Linked DNA regions of Homo sapiens. Each later gene encodes a partner of the first gene's protein in a complex. Each region holds a gene or a part of one and is shown on either strand. Other genes may lie near its edges. The genes, in order: AIFM1 and CHCHD4. A codon is read from its position in the direction of its gene.

The links.
Region 2: the proteins of AIFM1 (region 1) and CHCHD4 are in contact, whole or in part, in a cryo-EM structure (PDB 9GQZ), measured with the Homo sapiens proteins. Residues at the interface, in NP_004199.1 of Homo sapiens: Pro345, Tyr347, Ser500, Ser501, Leu502, Pro503, Thr504, Val505, Gly506, Val507, Phe508, Ala509, Lys510, Glu558, Asp559, Tyr560, Asn602, Ala605, Lys606, Phe608, Asn609, Ile610, His611; in NP_001091972.1 of Homo sapiens: Arg5 (codon at 8,820), Glu7 (codon at 8,826), Lys9, Asp10, Arg11, Ile12, Ile13, Phe14, Val15, Thr16, Lys17, His20, Thr22, Pro23.

The regions. Positions count from the first base shown.
Region 1 is NC_000023.11:130,140,999-130,149,140, reverse strand, and holds part of AIFM1 (apoptosis-inducing factor 1, mitochondrial isoform AIF precursor), read left to right. Parts: intron 1-1,264; coding exon 1,265-1,389; intron 1,390-1,517; coding exon 1,518-1,648; intron 1,649-3,571; coding exon 3,572-3,662; intron 3,663-8,142. UniProt on the Homo sapiens protein: Functions both as NADH oxidoreductase and as regulator of apoptosis.
Region 2 is NC_000003.12:14,121,871-14,133,483, reverse strand, and holds the start of CHCHD4 (mitochondrial intermembrane space import and assembly protein 40), read left to right. Parts: upstream 1-8,613; 5' UTR 8,614-8,807; coding exon 8,808-8,829; intron 8,830-11,397; exon of another isoform or gene 11,398-11,506; coding exon of another isoform or gene 11,507-11,567; intron 11,568-11,613. Other genes in the region: TMEM43 (transmembrane protein 43), read right to left, coding at 549-621, 889-938, 1,810-1,904, 2,528-2,662, 3,923-4,072, 8,279-8,290.

The DNA.
Region 1 (8,142 bases):
AGACCAGCCTGGCCAACATGGTAAAACCCCATCTATACTAAAAATACAAAAATTAGCCAGGCGTGGTGGTGCACGCCTGTAATCCCTGGTGCTCGGGAGGCTGAGGCATGAGAATCTCTTGAACTGAAGTGGCGGAGGTTGCAGTGAGCCAAGATCACGCTGCTGCACTCCAGCTTGGGTGACAGAGCAAGACTCTGTCTAAAAAAAAAAAAAAAAAAGTCTCTTAAAAGGCAAGCTTAGCAAGGAAAACTATTGGAAAAGATGGAAAAGAGATGAAAACCTTTTTTTTTTTTTTTTTTTTTTTTTTGAGATGGAGTTTCACTCTTTTTGCCCAGGCTGGAGTGCAGTGGCCCGATCTCATCTCACTGCAACCTCCGCCTCCTGGGTTCAAGCAATTCTCCCGCCTCAGCCTCTGGAGTAGCTAGGATTACAGGTGTGTGCCACCATGCCTGGCTAATTTTGTATGTTTAGTAGAGACAGGGTTTCACCATGTTGGCCAGGCTGGTCTCAAACCCCTGACCTCAGGTGATCCGCCTGCTTCGGCCTCCCAAAGTGCTGGGATTACAGGTGGGAGCCACCACGCCCAGCCGAAAGCTGTTTTTTAAATGAGGAAATTCTTCTAGTCTGTTTTGTTCCCCTTTTGAGTCTTTGCAGTTTCGAGTTGCTAAAGGTATATTTGCTTTCCTAAAGCACATACCCTAGCCATCACTTCCATTTCACATGATTCACTTCAATTTTCAGAGAGGACTGTTTTAATCCTTTAATAAGCCCCACAACTCTGGGTGGGCAATTTGTTCTGCTTTTTTCAAAAGCACCCCCTTATTCTTGAACATTGTATGATAATCCCCAATTGACCTCCTGGATTTTCTCCCTTTGTTGCTAACGGAAGGTGAAACTGAGCCTGATATTTTCCTGGTGATCACTAGGAAATTGATGGGAAGGGCAAAAGCCTACTGATGTATACTTTCTAAATGTTTTAGAAGTAACTAAATATTTAAGCTATGTCCTAGTACCAGTTCAGACCTGATGAATGAATGACATTGGTGAAATCATTCTCCTATTTTTCACTTATGAAATGAAAGGGATACTTGCTTTTCCTCTCCCATCAGGATGCTGTGAAGATTGTTAAGATTAGCGTAGGTCATATGTTTTGCTAGCTTTATGTGGAGGATTGAGACAAGTGCAAGGTGATTTTTTTTTAACAGTGGCAAAGAATCATCTGAGACTTCAAGAAGATTCATCCAGTCTGTTCTGTTGCTTTCAGCTTCAGAAGGAGAGGAAGTTCCTCAAGACAAGGCGCCAAGTCATGTTCCTTTCCTGCTAATTGGTGGAGGCACAGCTGCTTTTGCTGCAGCCAGATCCATCCGGGCTCGGGATCCTGGGGCCAGGGTAAGGTGCATGTTTTTTTGCTTGGCACAGAGGGTACAGTCTGCAAGCATTTAGCTAATGTGAATGCTTTGACATTTGCCCCTTAAATGACTTGGCTCTGATAAGCGTCATGATTTTTATGTCTGAAGGTACTGATTGTATCTGAAGATCCTGAGCTGCCGTACATGCGACCTCCTCTTTCAAAAGAACTGTGGTTTTCAGATGACCCAAATGTCACAAAGACACTGCGATTCAAACAGTGGAATGGAAAAGAGAGAAGGTGTGTTTGCTTATGTAAAATGAGCCTATCAACTTCAGCTAAGCACAGAGAATAGGTTAGGATTTTGCCACTGACTGTGTACAGTAATAGGAGGGATGGCTTGGCTGTCCACTAGAGTCTACTGTGGTCCACACTTGGTACAGCTTAGAGATAACAGTCTACAAAGGGCAAGAGTCCTGGATTCTGTTACCAGATCTACCAACAGTTGATGGTGTAATGTTGGCCTCTGAAATACTAATGCTCCTATTTCTGGAACCTTTATGTTAAGCTTCTTTAGGTGAAGATCAACTTGGCCTGTATTGTCACTTCTTTTTTTATTTTTATTTTTTGAGATGGAGTCTTGCTGCTCTGTCACCAGGCTGGAGTGCAGTGGCGCAATCTCAGCTCACTGCAACCTCCACCTCCCGGGTTCAAGCAATTCCCCTGCCTCAGCTTCTCAAGTAGCTGGGATTACAAGCACGTACCACCACACCCGGCTAATTTTTTGTATTTTATAGTAGAGATGGGGTTTTATCACATTGGCCAAGATGGTCTCGATCTCCTGACCTCATGATCCGCCTTCCTCGGCCTCCCAAATTGCTGGGATTACAGGCGTGAGCCACTGCCCCCAGCCATCACTTCTTTATACTTGCCTAGACATGTCCTACAAGAGCAGAAGAAAAGAAACTTTTTAACGGCACTCTCTTTGACAGCCTAGCAGGCATTTAGAATTTCAGGAGTAGAGTAGGAAGGCTGTAAGGAAGAGCCTGTGTTAGAATTTTTGCACGACAGACTTGGAGATACAGGTCCAGAAGCTTTTTCCTTTTGATGGACAACTTAGATCTCAATTCTAGTACCATGTTCTTTGGGTTCCAATTTTTTTTCTCATTAGTGACCCCTTTGATACCTGACCAAATTTTACAAACTTACCCTTTTCCCTCACCCCCACTAGTTCCATTTTCAAACAGGATGTATACTTTCAATTAAGTTAGTGGCTAACTTTATATGTATACATATGCATACACACACACACACACACACACACACACACACACACACACATATTTTGAGAGACAGGGTCTGGCTCTGTCACCCATGCTGGAGTGCAGTGGCCGAATCATAGCTCACTGCAGCCTCAAACTCCTGGGCTCAAGTGATCCTCCCACCTCAGCCTCCCGAGTAGCTAGGACTACAGGTGCGTACCACCACGTGCCTTTTATTAATTAAAAAAATTTTTTTCTAGAGACGAGATGTTGCTATGTTGCCCAATCTGGTCTCAAACTCCTGGCCTCAAGTGATCCTCCCAACTTGGGCTCCCAAAGCACTGGGGTTATAGACCTGAGCCACTGCACTCAGCCAATATTAATATATTAACTAATTAATATTAATATATCATAGTTGATAACTGCTTGAGGCAGAGTCTTCTCAGGAGCTATAATTAGTTGTTCCATTGAAGAGCACCATTCTGGACAACCCATTTGGGTGGATATGTGAATACCAGCTCTTTGGGTGCTCCACTTGTTCTTACTTTGAAATGAACCTAAATCTAGAGCAGGATCCTCAGCCTCAGCACTATTGACATTTGGAGCAGGATAACGCTTTGCTGGGGGTGGGGAGCTGTCCAGTGCATCATAGGATGTTTAGCAGCATCCCTGGCCATTACCCACTGGATATGAGTAGCATCCCTACCCAAGTTATTACAACCCAGATTGTCTCTGGACACTGGCAAACATCCCCTGGGAGCAAAATTGCCCCAAGTTGAGAACCACTGATCTGGATACCTGTATGTAAGCAAGTCATGACCATGATTTAATAGACTTGGAGACTTACTTTGGAAAACGTCCCTTAAAGTTTCTGATAATGGAAACAGTTTTATTAAAGCTACGGGGGAAGCTGATAACAGTTCCACATGCTTATAATATTCTCCCTCTCTTCTCCATACAGCATATATTTCCAGCCACCTTCTTTCTATGTCTCTGCTCAGGACCTGCCTCATATTGAGAATGGTGGTGTGGCTGTCCTCACTGGGAAGAAGGTGAGCTAGTAGACCGCTTCTTTTGTCAGGCTCTACGTACTTGCCCACCAGCCAGTATGGTGATGTGTGTTTCCATTACCATTTATGTCTGTCCTGCCATTGTAGTTCATCAAAGAAGGATCGAGCTGCTTTAGGTTTAATAATGCTGAGTGTGTCTTTCTGGGGAAAGCACTAGTATCAAAGCCTAGGTTAGCATGCTGACTCAACTTGACCCTAAAAGCTGTTATCTCTCCTATTTGCTCTTCTGCCCTTCCTCATCCTTCCTGTTTTCCCACACTAACTTCTCTCTGGGATTATCGATGAGAAAAGATTGACAAATATGTATTACTCATAGTAAAATAATTTGGGCATAACTCAGCACGGAATATATTGTTAGACTTTAAAAGGTGAGTGTCTGAGTAATAAGGTCAGTTATTAGCAGGTATTTGTGGAGTCCCAGGATGGTTTTGTTATATTTTATTGTTGTTAATGGCAGGTACTAGAGTGTGTGTGTAAACTAATGGCAGTGTTCCAATAGGGACGCATTCTCTGAAGGAGCAAAGCCCAGAGTAGATGAGATACACAGCATAAGTGGAAGGATTGTCCTTCGTTAGGAACATACTCACTTCTCCTGTAAGGGGACATTAGACAGAGAAGATGGATATAGGTTTGTTGATAAGCCGGTAATGAGACATTTAGTGTCCCCTATGTGTAAACAACATTCAGGCCCTGCCCTCTAGGGGCTAACTGTATTAGGCAGAAACATAAATACATAATCATAACACATAGGTGTGTAGTAAGAGAGATCTGCGCAGTATGTTGTGGGAAATACTGGGAAGGGTGCCCAGTAGAGTGATGACATCAGGAAAGGCTTTCTGGAGGAGAAGGTCTTACAGAATGGGCAATCTTATGGAATGAAGAGGCATTCACCAGACTAGAGAAGACTGAAGAGCATCCAAGTAAAAAAGAACAGCATAAGCAAAAGCACAAGGGCACAAAAAAGCATGTTTGGTGCCAGGAAATAGAAGCAGCTCGATACTGATAGAGCAGTTAGGTACAAGTTAGGAAGTGGCAAGAGATGAACCTGAGAAGTTATGCAAGGGGCCTGATTGTGGAGGGCTTTGCGTGAAAGAGCTTTTTCTGCACTGGGGAGCTGTTGCATTTTAGGCAATTGAATTTTAAATAATCACCATTGGCCGTGAGGAGGATGGATTTCAGTGAGACAAGACTAGAGAGAGACCATTTCAGAGATTATTGCAATAATCTAGGCAAGAGATGATGAGAGCCCAAATTAGAATAGTAGTGGTATGATGATGATGAAGAAGAAGAAGAAAGTAAGAGGTAAAATTTGTATAGTACCTATTCTAATCTTGTAAGCACAGTTCTTAAATGCTTTATGTGCACCATCTCATTTTATCCTCCCAATAATCTTATGAGGTAGGTATTATTTCCCTCTTACAGAGAAATAAGTTGAAATTTTTAAAAATAAATAAATTTTAAATAATTTGCCTAAACTCACATAGCTAGTAAGTGGTAGAGAGAGAATTTGAGCCCGGGTCTGTCTGAGCCACAGAATTGGAACCCAGCTATTCTGATTCCAGAGCCTAAGCTATTAATAACATCAGTGTACAGTGTACAGTACTTTTTTTTTTTGAGACAGATTCTCACTCTGTCGCCCAGGCTGGAGTACGGTGGCATGATCTCAGCTCGCTGCAACCTCTGCCTCCCAGGTTCAAGCGATTCTCCTGCCTCAGCCTCCCAAGTAGCTGCATGCGCCACCATGCCTGGCTATTTTTTTTTTTTGTCTTTTTAGTAGAGATGGGGTTTTACCATGTAGGCCAGGTTGGTCTCGAACTCCTGACCTCAGGTGATCCACCCACCTCGGCTTCCCAAAGTGCTGAGATTACAGGCATGAGCCATCGTGTCCAGCCAGTATTACTTCTTGATAGAAAGGTGATGAGAAGTAGGGAACACACTTGAGGCATGCTTAGGAGTCATGCTTGATGAGGCTTGGTGGTTGGTTAAAGGTAGAAGATGAAGGAGATGGAGGAGGCAAAGATGATTTTCTAATTTCTAGCCTGCATGTCTGAGTGGATGGCAGTGTACCCACAGCTGAGAAAGACATTACAAGAGGAAGAGCTAGTTTAAGGGGGAAGATAAAATTCAGTTTTGGACCATTAAGTATGAAGTGGAATATCTGCGTGAAGGTGTCTTCTGGGCAGTTGGACATATGACTGCCACGCCCAGGGGACTTGGGCTCAGATAGAGAGCTGAGAATCATCTGCATATGTGTAGAAGTTGAAACCATGAGAGTAGGTGAAGCCTCCCAGGGAGAACTGATCTGGTGAGAAGAGGAGGAAGGCAAGGATAGAGCCCTGGGGAACCCCAATTTTTAGGAAGCAGGCTTAAGAAGAACCCACAAAGGAGACTAGGAAAGAACTTAAAGAGCAGTATGAGGAAACCTGAGGACAGGAGCCAAGGTTGTAGGGAGTTTCAAGAAAAAGAATGTGATCCACAGTGTTACCGTGGCAGAGGAATCTGGGAAGAAAAGAACCGTAAAATGCACTGTGAGATTTGGCGGTTCAGATACCTTTGGGAGGCTGAGGCAGGTGGATCACTTGAGGTCTGGAGTTAGAGACCAGCCTGGCCAACATGGTGAAAACACATCTCTACTAAAAATACAAAAATTAGCCAGGTGTGGTGGCGCACACCTGTAATCCCAGCTACTCAGGAGGCTGAAGCACGAGAATCGCTTGAACCCAGGAGGCGGAGGTTGCAGTGAGCCAAGATTGCATCAGTGCACTCCAGCCTGGGTGACAGAACAAGACTCCATTTCAAAAAATTAATAAAATAAAACAGATACCATTGGGAAGTTAGAAAAGAGGGTAAAGCACTCTTTCAAAAGATTTAAATGAGAAAAGAGAGATGGCAATCGGATAAAAGCGTGAAGAGGACATAGAATCAAAGGTGGGACCTATTGGATGGGACAAGCATGTTAATAGGCTGGACGGGGGTGGTGGGGAGCCCTCATGCCTCATGGGAAGCTATGGAAGATCACATCTAATGGCTTCATTTGTTTTTGCAATACAATAGAACATAAGATGGTTATCTGAGAGCGAACACCGTGAGGGTTGAGTAGCGGGATTGGATTGAAGAGGGAGCTTACCAAGGACAAATCAAAGGAGGCTAAAGAAGCTGCTTATCCATCAGATCTCAGTTCATGTCATTGCCTCTAGAAAGCTTTACCCAACCCAACCTGACTAGATTGCACATGTCATATGTTCCCAGCGCTACCTGCACTGTTCTTACCACTTACATCACATTTGTCACTCTTGATTATTGTTAGTGCTTGTTAAATTGTCTTGGCCACTAAACTCTGAAAGCAGCAAGGATCACTGTCTCAACTTGATACATAGTAGGTGCTTAATTGAATGGTCTCAGCTAGTAAAGAGTGGTGCAAAGACTGGGGCCCTATTCTCTCTGACTCCAAAGCTCAAGCTCTTAACCATAAGAAGGAGTAGGGTGCAAGGGAATTAAAGGTACTGGCAAAAGAACAGTTTGGGTGTTCTACCATTGGCCCAAATTAGTTAGAATGGAGCAGCTAGTCAAATAAACAGAGAAAATTGAAAGCAAGCATAGGAGACAGACTGAGCGAAAGCTGAAGGGATGGAAAATTGTGACCAACAAGTAGAATAATTGAGGTAGGAGGAGAGGTTTAGGAGATAACAAGATGAGGAAAAGTATGAGCCAGGTTCCAAGGTCTTCAGTGAATCAGGAGGAGTAGCCAGGAGGTGGCTCAAAACAGTGATTCGTAGGAATATAGGACTCCTCTGATGTCCCTCAGAAGAGAATGAAAGTACAAGAATCTGGAAGCAGCAGACCAGTAACCTCAAGAAGCTTGCAGAATGCCAACACCTCCTCCTGGCCTTGTGATGTGGAGTGTGGGGGAACGAACAGCCTCTATGTGTAAGCTCTCCTTAAGAGAGAGCCAAGTTTCCGTGAAGGCTACAAGTTGGAGAAAGCATTCTGTAAAAATGTTGTAGATGTAGGAGACTTATTAATAAAGTAATAATAAGTAATTCCAAACAGCCATATAAGAAAGGCTGTTCCGATTCTCCTTTTCCACACATGGGTCAGGGCTTTGGGACTGTCATGACTTGCTCTAATGTTGCCTGCCTTCTCATTGCCAATTTCCAACATATGACTGCCTAAAAAAACTGGGTACCAGAAACTGTGGTTCCCATGATTACTTGGATATGGTTTCTTAAGGATCGCTTTAGGTCAAGAACTCATTCTTCTTATTGGGCTGACAACTTTTTTTGTTTTTGTTTTTGTTTGTTTTTGTTGTTGTGGTTTTGGGGTTTTTTTGTTTTGTTTTGTTTTTGAGACAGAATCTTGCTCTGTTGCCCAGGCTGGAGTGCAGTGGCATGATCTCGGCTCACTGCAACCTCTGCCTCCCAGGTTCAAGCGATTCTCCTGCCTCAGCCTCCCCAGTAGCTGG
Region 2 (11,613 bases), on another chromosome or scaffold:
CCCACCCACTGCTGTCAGATGTATCTTGCATGGACTTTACACCCCTCACTAGCCCCTCCCAGAGCATTCCATCCCAACCATCTTACTGGCACAGCCCAGACCATTGCTGAACAAGGCCTGCTCTCTAGCCACACCCAAGTGTTATGCCCGCCTCACCACTGGCATGCCGTGGAGCTAACCTCCCTCTGCTGAAATCCTGAGAAGCCTGAACAAATGCCGCTGCCTCTGGAAAGCCTGTCCTGATTGTCCTCCCACCCATGGCAAACCATTAACAAAATGCTTCCCCGGCCCCGTGTGTGCAAATCCCCTTAGACGCTTAGTGCAGGCCTTATATTTGTGACTTGTTTGCGGGGAGCTTGTCTGGGGTCAGGGGAGACAAGTCTCTGTGTTCCTGGTGCCCAGCACAGGGCTTGGTCTCAAACCCATGTCCCACATTTTCAACCCACGAGGCAGGATTAACTCAATCCTGTTATTCAGATGAAGAAACTGAGGCTGGAGACCTGCCAGTGTAGACAAAGCTGCACTCAGGCCTTGGGCCTGGCTCTCACCTGGGGTTTTTGTGGCCAATCTCTCGGTCGAAGTTTTTGCTGTTGATGATTTCTGACCTCCATTCAGTGTCTGCTCAGGGAGAGGAATCAACTCAGAGCCCGGGTAGGAGTGGCACGCGGCTGAGACCCACCAGCCCAGCTCCTCCTATCTCACAGCCAAAGGGGTGGGTCAGGGAGCCTCAATGGATGGGTGGGAAAGCAGGGCTCTGAAGACTTGCACCCAGGGATCCTGATGCCTGGTGCTGAATCCTTCCCATGGCCCCACCAACAGCCCTGCTGTCCAGCCACCACTGTGGGCCCCCACCATGGGCAGAGACCACGTAAGGGGCCCAGCACTCACTGTAGGAATACCTCGTCTCCTTCTTCACCTGCCCATCCTCGGTGTACTCCCTGCAGGGAAAGCAAAGCAGCCACGGGGGTTAGCCTCGTCGCCCCAGGCAGTCTAATCTCTAAGCATCTGAGCAGGAAGCAACCTCAGGGCTACCAGATCAGACTCCCCAGATACGGCAGATGCCTTCTCTACACCAGCCCCAAGACAGGGCACTCACTCCTGACAGACAGCCAGCTCCTGCCCTCCAAGGCGCTACCTGGAGGAAAGCGCTCTCCCATCCTGAGCTGAAATCTGCCCGCACTGGCCTTACACCAAGGGGCCCAGCCCTGCCCTTTGGGCTCAGAGATCTGGCTGCATCCTCTGCTCCAGGACAGCCCTGCGGGGGGCCTCTTGAAGCTGCCCTTCTCCTGCTCCTCCCACCACCTCCCCACCTGTCGGTCACAGTCCATATGATTCAGGTGGGGCTGAACCCACCCCCAGCTCCAGGTGACCCCAGCCCTGATCAATGAGAACCTGCCCTGGGACTCCTGTCAGAAACGATAAGCTGTAAGTAGAGCAAAGATGGGACCAACACAGCTGATGGGAAGGCTGAACACAGAGAGATGCAGTGGGGTCTCGGGGTTGACATGCTGATCCTAATGACAGTGTTTCAGGCCTGCTCCAAGTCATGCTTCAAGCTTGTGCATCTCTGGAACTTCCCAGATGTGGGAGCAACTCAATCCCCCTTTCCTCCTGGAGCCACTCTTCACTGGATTTTTGCCACTTCCAAATCACTGGCTATTAATTTGGGGATCATTTCACACTTTTCTGATAGGAAGATGTTATACTTGAGTTTCAAAGGTATCAAAATGAAAGACATCTGCATGTTATCCTGACACCTACACTTCACTCCTCCTTTACCCCAACAGAGTTTTCACCCCAACAGCTCACCTGGACTCCTCAGTTTCTACCCATTGGTACATCTCCACGTGCCTCCGCAGTTTCACAGCCGGAAGATGGACCCCATAGTTTGGATCAGACAAAAGCTTCAAACAGAATCAAAGAAACCAAAAAAATAAAGGATAACATTCACGTCAGCCCAGAAAGCCTGGCTCAGGGGAAGCTGGACTGGAAGAGGAAGAAATAGAGAAGGGGACAAGGGTGGAGAGCCCTACACTGCTTTGCAGGGGAGAATCGAGGACACTCCCTGTCCCAGGTTCTTTACACACAGTGCCTGTGACTGTGACCCTCACAGTACAGGCCTGGGCTGCATGGCCCAATGGCATGGTGCCAACAGCGTACAGGGTGTTCAAATAACAGGAAAGCTCTGGTGCCCAGGGTAGTTTTGTGGCCTTGCACTGGACACACATGGTCATCAGAGTCATGAGAGCACCTCCCTGAGTGCCAGCCACTGTACCAAGGCGTTAGTTACCTAATCTCACCAAATCCTCAAGGCTGGCCACAAGCTTGTAACCATTACCGTCCCCATTTTATACACGAAGACACTGAGACTCAGGATAGACAAGTCCACACAGCTGCTGAGTGGTAAAGTCGGGAATCACTCCCATGTGTGACCATCTCCAAGGCCCATGCTTTCAAATCCTCAGCCAGACAACATCCAGGATGAGCCCCGAGCCACTGGCAGGTCAGCATCCCCTGCCAAACCTACCTTGGATGTCCGTAAGGCGCCAATGATGTGCACCAGCCTTCCTTCATTCTCCGGAGCCACACTGTGGATGCTGTCGGGAGACACCACAAGCGAGAGCCCCTCAGCCAATGAGGTTGCCGTCTTCAATGCGCGGCCCTGGGAGCAAAGGGGAGTGGGGATTTCAACAGCTCAGGGGTGGCTCAGCATGACTGTGCTTGTTGCAAAGTATTAGGGTAGGATGGGGCCTCCGGGAGCGCTGAGACCCATCTCCCCACCGTACAGTTGGAAAACTGAGGTCTAGCAAGTGGAGAGTAAGGACTGGAACCCAGATTCCTGCTTTCCCAGGGAGACTTCTTCCTACTGCCCCATTGGTTCCCACTAGCCCCCACCAATCTTAGCACTGCCCCAGTGGTGGGAACAGCTGATGTTTCTGCCTGCCTGTCCCTTTCTCCCCATTTTTCTCTGCCTTCTTTTTTTTAATTTTATTTTTATGTTTAAGTTTTTTGTAGAAATGGGGTCTTGCTATGTTGCCCAGGCTGCTTTCGAACTTCTGACCTCAAGCGATCCTGCCTCCTTGGCCTCCCAAAGTGCTGGGGTTACAGGCTTGAGCCTCCATGCCTGGCTCTCCTCTCTCCTACTCAGCCCATGTGGTTTACCTGAGTCTATCTGAACCCTGGTCAGATTATGGGACCCAGACCTTGCCAGTCAGAACATGTGAGTGCGCCCTGGACACGGAGACTGATTCAGAGGACGGAGAGCCAAGCCAGGACACTGAGAGATGGCCCTGTAACTGCTGCTAAATTGATTTAGAAATATACTGTTGCATCATGAGGCCCTATTAAAAAAAAGGAGAAAAAGAAAGAGAGAGGGAGAGAAAGAAAGAAACAAACAAACAAGAAAGAGAGAAAGAGAGAGACAAAGGAAGGAAGGAAGAAAGGAACAAAGGAAGGGAGGGAGGGAGGGAGGGGAAAGAAAGGAAAAGAAAGAAAGGAAGAGAAACAGATGGTTTTTCTCTTCCCTGGGCTAAGTGGTTGGATGTAGGCCAGTTGCTGGGGCCACATTTGCCATCACAGATGAAGTGCCTGCCCAAGAAAAACACCATAATAGAGAAAAACAGGCAAAAGATGAAGAAATGGAGATTCCTGGTGACCCAGCATGAACACCTGGATCCAACTACGCCTGAGGCAGGTGCTAACCCCTGGATATTCAGGTGTGTGAACTGATCTACTCCCCTTCCTGCTCACATCAGCTGTGGGATGGATCACAATGGAAAGAACTGTGATTAACTCAGTATCCTCCTTTCTCTTTTTAAAATCTAGGCCCTTGATTACCAAATCCAGCCTCCGGGTTCATCGCCTTTGCTCTCTGACATGGTGGGGACTCTCACTCTGCACAGGAAGACCCCAGACATTTTACCTCATTGGTGAAAATTAGGTAGAAGGAGAGCAGGAAGGCCATGAGCCCCACAAACATCCCACCCGAGGTCTCGCTCAGCCGTTCCAGGAAGCCTGGCTGGGAGCTGGTTTTAACTTTGACATGTTCTCTCCGGGTACTGGTACTGGAATACTGAAGAAAAAGAAACAGTAACAGAATGAAAACTAGTTTTTAAAAATAAATTAAATTTGCTATTTATTTATACTCAATTTTTTTTTTTTTTTTTTTTTTTTTTTAGTTTTAACTGTATGTGGTAAAAACACACAGATATTCAATGTACAGTTTGGCAGGTTTCCACAAACGTATATTCCATCTGACCAACATCTAAAGCAAGGTACAAAATATTTCCATCACCCCAAAAAGTTTCTTTGTGCCCCTTTCCTGCCAATTCTCCCCCTCTCCACCAACCAGAGGTAACTGGTGGGGATGGGGAGAATCTGAATTTGAATTTCTCCTACCGTAGATTAGTTTGTTTCTTCTACAACTTGAGAAAAATGGAATCAGGGCACCAACTCCTTTCTGCCCAGCTTCTTGGACTCAGAGCACTGCTTTTGCAATTCATTCATGTTGTGGTGTTTATCAGGAATTTGTTCCTTTTCATGGCTGAGTAGTATTCCATTTATGACTATACCACAGTGTGCTGAATCATTCGTCAGTGGATGGGTATCTTGACAGCTTCCAGGTTTTGGCTGTTATGAATAATGCTGCTGTGAATATTCATACATGAACCTTTATGCAGACATGTGCTTTCATTTCCCGTAGGAATATACCTAGGAGTACAACTGCTGGCTCGTGAAGAAGATGTACGTTTAACTTTTTATGAAACTGCCAAGCTATTTTACAAAGAGGTTATTAGAGATGTATTTTTAATTAAATTCAGCAAACAGTGGCTGAGCTTTCTGAGGGCAGTGCTAGCCCTTGTGGGGTCAGAAGTAGACAGTCTTAGGGCAGTGAGGTCACAACCATAAACAATACTAGAAGGTCACACAGAGGGTCCTGTGATGGGGGTGGACTTGGTGCTCAAGGAGTGACCCCTTCCACCTGGGGTATCAAGGAGGCTCCCTTGAGTGGAATCTTAGAGGCAGATCTTAGGGGAAGAGCATCCCTAAAGGGAGAACCGTATCAGCAGTGATGAGGAAGTAGGAAGTGGTTCTGGGGGAGCAGCTGCCTGTCTGCTTTGGCTGGGTGGGAGCAGTGGAGGAAGAAAGGGCTTGGAGGTAGGCATTTCTGGGCAGGTTCACAGTGGGCCTCAAACTCAAGGGTGAGTGGATCAGGCTTTGGTCAATAACAGAGGCATGATTTGGGGTGCATCCACTGCTGATCAAAAGTGTCATCGTCTAGGGCAGGATTCTGGAGCCAGAAGAACTGGGTTTGCATTTATGCTCTGCCACATACCAGCTACGGGGTCTTGGGCAAGCAACTTCACCACTTTGTGCCTTCCATTTCCTCTGTGCATAGGGTTGTGGTGAGAACCAAAGAACACAGTTATTGGGTAGCTCAGGGCCTAGGGCGTGGTAAGCACTGGACACGTGTTAGCTAGTAGAAATGTTACCAGATTTCCCTACAACTGATACTGGGCTGGCACCAGGCTGGGGGTGAGCTGACAAAAGTCACAAAGATGTAAAGTGGGGCCCAGCTAAGACAGGCCCCATCCTGGTATTGGGGGCCAGAGGAGTGATTTGACTCAGAATCTCTGCTTGAACAAAGCTGATGTCGCATTCTGATTGTCTTTGAGTACCACCAGCCAAGGCCTCCAGTGACCAGATGTCCATGAATCCAGAAGTCGTCTTGACTTTCCATGCCATTTGGAAACATTAGGTGAGTGAATCACCACATAGGGGCAGGTGACCATCACAATGATGACAATGGCAAACACACCGGGTCTATCACAGGCCAGCCCACAGGCAAGCCCAAAGAGCGGGATGTCATAACGACCCCATTTCACCGATAAGAAAATCGGGCTCAGGGTTACGTCATCTTCCCAGATCACACAGCTTCTAAGAGGAAGAGTTAGGATTCAAATCCGGGCAGACTGGAGGCTACTCTCCCATTACTCATTCCAGTCTGTGCTCCCCATCTCTTGGGCTACAATGTGAGCTGAATGTTGGGAGCCAGCTGCAGGCAGCAATAGGAAAATAAGGCGTGTCTTCCTCTTGGGCCTCCCCTCAGCCAGCATCAAGATAAGGGGCTCAAAGACGGCCTTGGAGGGAAGGAAGAGAGGTACAGGAGGGTGCCCCTCAGGCTAGGGGAGGGGTGAGGTGGGCAGTGACATGACAAACCCAGCCCACATTCTGAACCAAAATTCCCAGTAAACATGGAGGATCATAAAGGATCTATATATCCACACATATTTATATATACATATAGTATGTATTACATGTATACACACATTATATAAACACACACACACACGCACACACAGACGGACATCCCCAGTGACACATCCCCTCCCAGTCCTAGCACTCAGGACTTAGAAGAAATGAGCAATGAGTGGTGGGAACAGAGGCTGACACATAGGCCCTGGAAATGGACAGAACTGGATTTGATGCCTAGGTTCACCAATCGCTTGCTGTGTAAGCCTGGGTAAATTGCTCTACCTCTCTGATTCTGTTTACTCACTTATAAAGTGGAGAGGGGAATAGTACCTTCACCACAGGTACTGCTGCTGCTGTACTGATTGAGAATTTTGTTGCCTCCCTGCTCCATCCCGCTATCTTCTTCCTCACCCAGCCTAGTGGCTGCTGTAAATGTGTACTCAGCTACTGGATGAATCAAAAAATGCTTGGCAGCAGAGAATACTCAAATGCATGTATATTCCTTGGTGAGGGGTCAGGTCTCAATGTACCCAAGATGATCTCTATCCACTGGGACCATTTGTGCTACCCTGCAAGGACAGGCTTGTTTTCAAGTATTAAGTACCTACCACACATCAGGCACTGTGCTAAGCAGTCTCCCTTAAATATCACAGTAACTGATCCATGAGGCTACATAAACCTGGAGAGATGAAAGCCACACAGCTACTGGGTGGAAGAATCTGGATTGCCCCCAGGTCTCCCTAACTCCAAAGCCTGCCCTTTTCAGCATATTTCCGTGTCACAGCATGCCAAGCCGGCCACGAGAGCTTGGGCAAGTGCCTTCCCCTGCTAGGGAAGTTCCCCATCTGTAAAATATGGTGGTGGTAGTGATGGGAGCAGACAAAGAGTCCACATACTACAGACAGGCTGGTCTCCTGACTGCCCTCTCGCCTGGCCGAGCCTGAGTCTCTCCGAATACCTCTGAGGCTTTTCTAGGTACAACATTCAAGGCTTCTAACCCTCCTGTGGGCCCGAAATGTCCTGGGAGTGTGGATGATACTAACCCGAGACAAAGTGTACTAGGGCTGTGGGTGATGCACACCCTGGCCTCTCAAGGGGTGTGGGAGGCAGAGAGGACGCTTGGGGACAGAGGCGGTGTCTGGAAATAGGGTGTGACAGGCAAGGGGAGAGCTGCTAGGACACTCTACCAAAGCAGGAGGGAGGGTGTGTCTGGGGCTGGCTGGGCTCCTAAGCGGGCCCTAGAAGCACTTTCACAGAGGAGGGGAGAGGTGAGTCACCAGCTTCTCCCACACCCAGCGCCCTGGTAGGAGGCGCTGCTTGTTGAATGAATGTTGGGCTTAAATAGTTTCCCGAGAAAGGCTAGTTGCAGGGAGAAGAGGCCTTGAGGGAACAGCCCTCAGCCAGGCCTCCTCCAACCAAATCCTTGCTAGGGGGAGGAGGGGCCCCGACAGTAGAGAAATGCTCCCTCTCCCCCAACTCCTTCGCTCCCAGCCCAGCCTAAGCTTTTTGGAGCATCACAGACTCGGTTTACAGAGACTCCCTAGGGCGGAGAGCTCTCTGCCCGCCTGGACAGCCCTGTCTGTCCATTGCTGGACAGCTCCACTTGGGCTGGATCGCCTTCCTCCCTCCCAAGGGACTGGCGCCCTCTCTGAGGTCGCGTCCAGCTCTCATAATGCGCAAGTTTCAGGGCCCCAAGGTACAGGAGGGAACTGGGAATGCAAGGAGGGGCCGCGGAGAGGCGTACAAGCAGATCCCAGTACGGGAGCAACACCTCCGAGTCCGCCTCCGCACGAACGCCGAGGACGAGGCGAGCCAAGGAACACGGACAAAAGAAGCCTGGACAGGCCGCGAGATGAGCAGAGGGATGAGCTGGCGAAGGCACAGACACGGCGAGCAGAGGGAGATGCGGGCCTAGCCGCACGGAGGAGCTCCAGGCGGCGAAATGGACCTAGAGGACCCCGGGGAAAAGCCCCAGGGCGACGGGGAAGCCTGGGTGTGGCCCGGCTGGCCCGGGGATACTCACATTCGCGGCCATGGTGGGACCCGGCTCGCTGCCGCCGCCTCGCGCTGTTCAGCTAGGAAGTGGGCTGACGACTGGAGCGTGGTGTCCAGCGGCCTCTTGCCAGCCCCAGCTTCGAAAATCCGCGTGGACTCCAGGGCCAAGCGGGACTTACTGCAGTTACCTCCCCCTGTGCCCAGTGTTTCTGCGCATGCGCGCGGCGAGACGTCCTGGAAACTATACGGTCCGGGACATTGCAGTACCTCATTGATGCGCCTGCGCACTGCAAAGCTTTCGGGGAAATGTAGTTTCTACTGCCTGGAGAGCTGTCGAGGAGCGCGCGACCTGCTGGGAAATGTAGTTTCCGGCTGAGGTTGGCCTGGCCGCGGTTGCGAGGGCGCCGAGGCAGGCGCGCGGCGGGCAGGCCTGGGAGGGGGCGGGTCCGCGCGGGCTTCGGAGGAGCCCGCCCTGCCAGAGGAGAGGGAGGTCACGGCGTAAAGGTGCAGCTGCCGCCACCGCCGCTTCTGCAAGGTCTCAGGGACGGGCTGCAGCCATGTCCTATTGCCGGCAGGAAGGTAGGGAGGGCGGGCTGCCACGGAGACCGGCCTACGAGGGCCTGCGGGAGACACGCGGGCCCCGGCGCCCCGCGACCACGCCGGGCGCGGGCCACCTGAGGCGCGGCCCAGGTGCCCACCCTGGGACACTCGGAGGCGGGCCGGCTGGGGGGTCGCTACTCCTGTTTTGCGGATGAGAAAACCGAAGCTCTGGGGGGAACGGGGCTGGTCCAAGGTCACAGTGAAGCCCGAACCCTGACCTCAGAGGGGCCTGTGCGTAGGAAGTCGTAAACTAGGTCCGGTTGGGGCACGGGAAGTGCCGAGCACGTTGCGTGTGGCTCGAAACTGGGAATGTATGGTGGTTAATTATCACTACCGCTCCTGCCATACCCCACGTGTTTACATTTTGCACGCGCCTTTAAAAGGCGCGTCCCGAAAAGTTGCCACTCGGGGTAGCGTGTGCTGTGCTGGAGTGCTAGGAGTTCCACTAACGGGAATGTTTTTGAGCCCCCTGCTACCTGTCAGGCACTGTTCAAGGAAACTTGCCTGGCTTGTCTCACAGATCTCGCTGCGACCTTTGTAAGTCAGGCTCTGTTGTTGGTCACATTTTACTGAAGAGTAAAGTTAGACACAGGAGACATGGCTAAAGCCACTCAGCCAGCAAATCGTGGAGCTGGGGTTTGAGCCTGGGCATTGTGACCCCAGAAGAGCCTTATCCAATCTAGTGCCCAGTGGATTGCAGGGAGAACCCTGCCTACCTCCCACCCCAAAGTTGAGCTCCGACCACCTACTGCTTCCTTGATGTTACTCTACCCAAGAGCTCAGAAGTACCCGAGCCACAGGTCGGAGGGCCTCCCCACACACTGCCACAAACTGGCTCCTTGGCCCTGAGCTCCCACCTAACCCCTCCAGGCCCTGGTATCCAGTGTTGTAAAATGAGATGTTGGGCTTCATTGATACGGCAAATACTCATGAAGCACCTTCTCTGCGCCAGAGAAGGGGGATGGATGGTTATAAAACTACAGAGAGAGTTGGAAGTCCCCCAGAAATTCTTTGGTGAATACTCCAGCTCCGTCAGTTAATTCAAGCAATCTGAAGCCCAGAGAAGGAGGTGGCCTACCTGTAGTTACACATCCAGTTAGGAGACTAGCTCAGCCTAAAATTCTGAGCCTTTTCCCTGGTGGCGCTGTCTGCTTCTAGAACCTCTCCTCCTCTGGGTCGTAAAGCCATAAGACTCACTCTTTAATGAGTACTATTATATTTCCGCTGATTACTACTTAATGTGTGCCATAAGCAAAAGTCCTCTGCCCTCACCACTCTTGTTTTTAATTTCGAGTCTTTCTCTAATTTACTTCATTTAGCAAATAATTTTTGAGCCTTTGGGTATAATGAGGCTGTGCTGATAAACAAGACCCTCCTCTTTGAGGATTTACAGGAGGCAGTTTTCTCTGGAAAGGGGAGGCTAGGTCCATCTGCCTCCAAAACATGGAGCCCTATCTTTTCCTGCTTCAAAGATCTCTCTTAGTTCGGAGAGGAGTGAGAATTGAAAGCACTCACTTATAGGCCTTCCTTAGTATTTATCTTGTGCATACCACTGTCCCCGTAAGAAGTCCCTAACTTCCCCCCCTCCGCCCCCCACTGATCCTTTATGCTTCCCATAGGATTTTTAAAAAATGATCCCAAACTGCTTACTGTATCAGAGCTTATGTGATCTGGCCCTGTCTGCCTTTCCAGCCTGGTCTCTTCCCACCCTTTTGCTGCCCAGCCTCTAGCCTCTTGGCTATTCCCTTGGTTTGGTATATCCTGCCTTCAGCTCTTCCGTGGCTGACTCCTCATCCTTTAACATTTAGCTCCAATATCACCTCCTGACCCTTTGTGTCTTTCACATCCTGAACTGTCTGAAATGACCTTTTTTATTTTTTGCCATCTTACTTCCTGCCTGTCTTCTCGCACTAAGCTGAGAGCATCAGATGGGCTGTGGAATCCCCAGCATCTAGCACAGGGCTTGGTGTACAATGGGTGCCCACATCTTTATTGAATCATGCATTTACCTGCCCTCTGTTCTGAGTGAATCACTTGCCTGTACAAGTTTATTTCAGGGGTCCACCTGCTACCCAGCCTTCAGGTTAAACTCGTTGGTTTGGCATTCAAGGGCTCTCAGCCTCGCACCTGGGCCTTGGGCTAGCCACACTTCTCCTGTGTCAGCACCATAGTGTTTCTTTCTTAGTTTCCTCTTTCTAATGCAGAGCCTGCCAACTCCTGTTCAGTCAACAATTATAGAGCACACGTGATGTGCCAGCCATTGGGCATATAGTGGTGAGCAAGGTGACACATTCTCTGCCCTCCTGGCATGGTGGAACAGATTGCCATTAAAACATCACCAGACAAATGCATGATTACAGACTGTCATAGGTGACATGAAGGAAAAGCCCAGCATGCTATGATCGTTTAGTGAAAGGCTCTATGGGGTCTGAGAAGGCTTCCTGAGGCTTCAGACATCCTTTTAAATGCCACTTTCTTAAGAAAACCTTTTGCAATCCTAAACACGTGTGAGCGAACACTACTTAAAACCCTCCTTTTGCCCTCCAGGCTTTGCCCAGGATGGTTCCTTCTGGAATGTCTATTCCCCTCCTTCCCTCCCTGAAGCTCTTTGTCAGGGACAAAGGTAGGATCCCTCCCCTTCCGTCTTCTCCACTGGATGCCTGTGTCGTATTCATCTGTGACCACCAGGTACTACCACAGAGCTGGAGCTGAGGAAGGTTTGTTGAGCTAAACTTCTAACACTTGCATTCTTCTTAACACTCT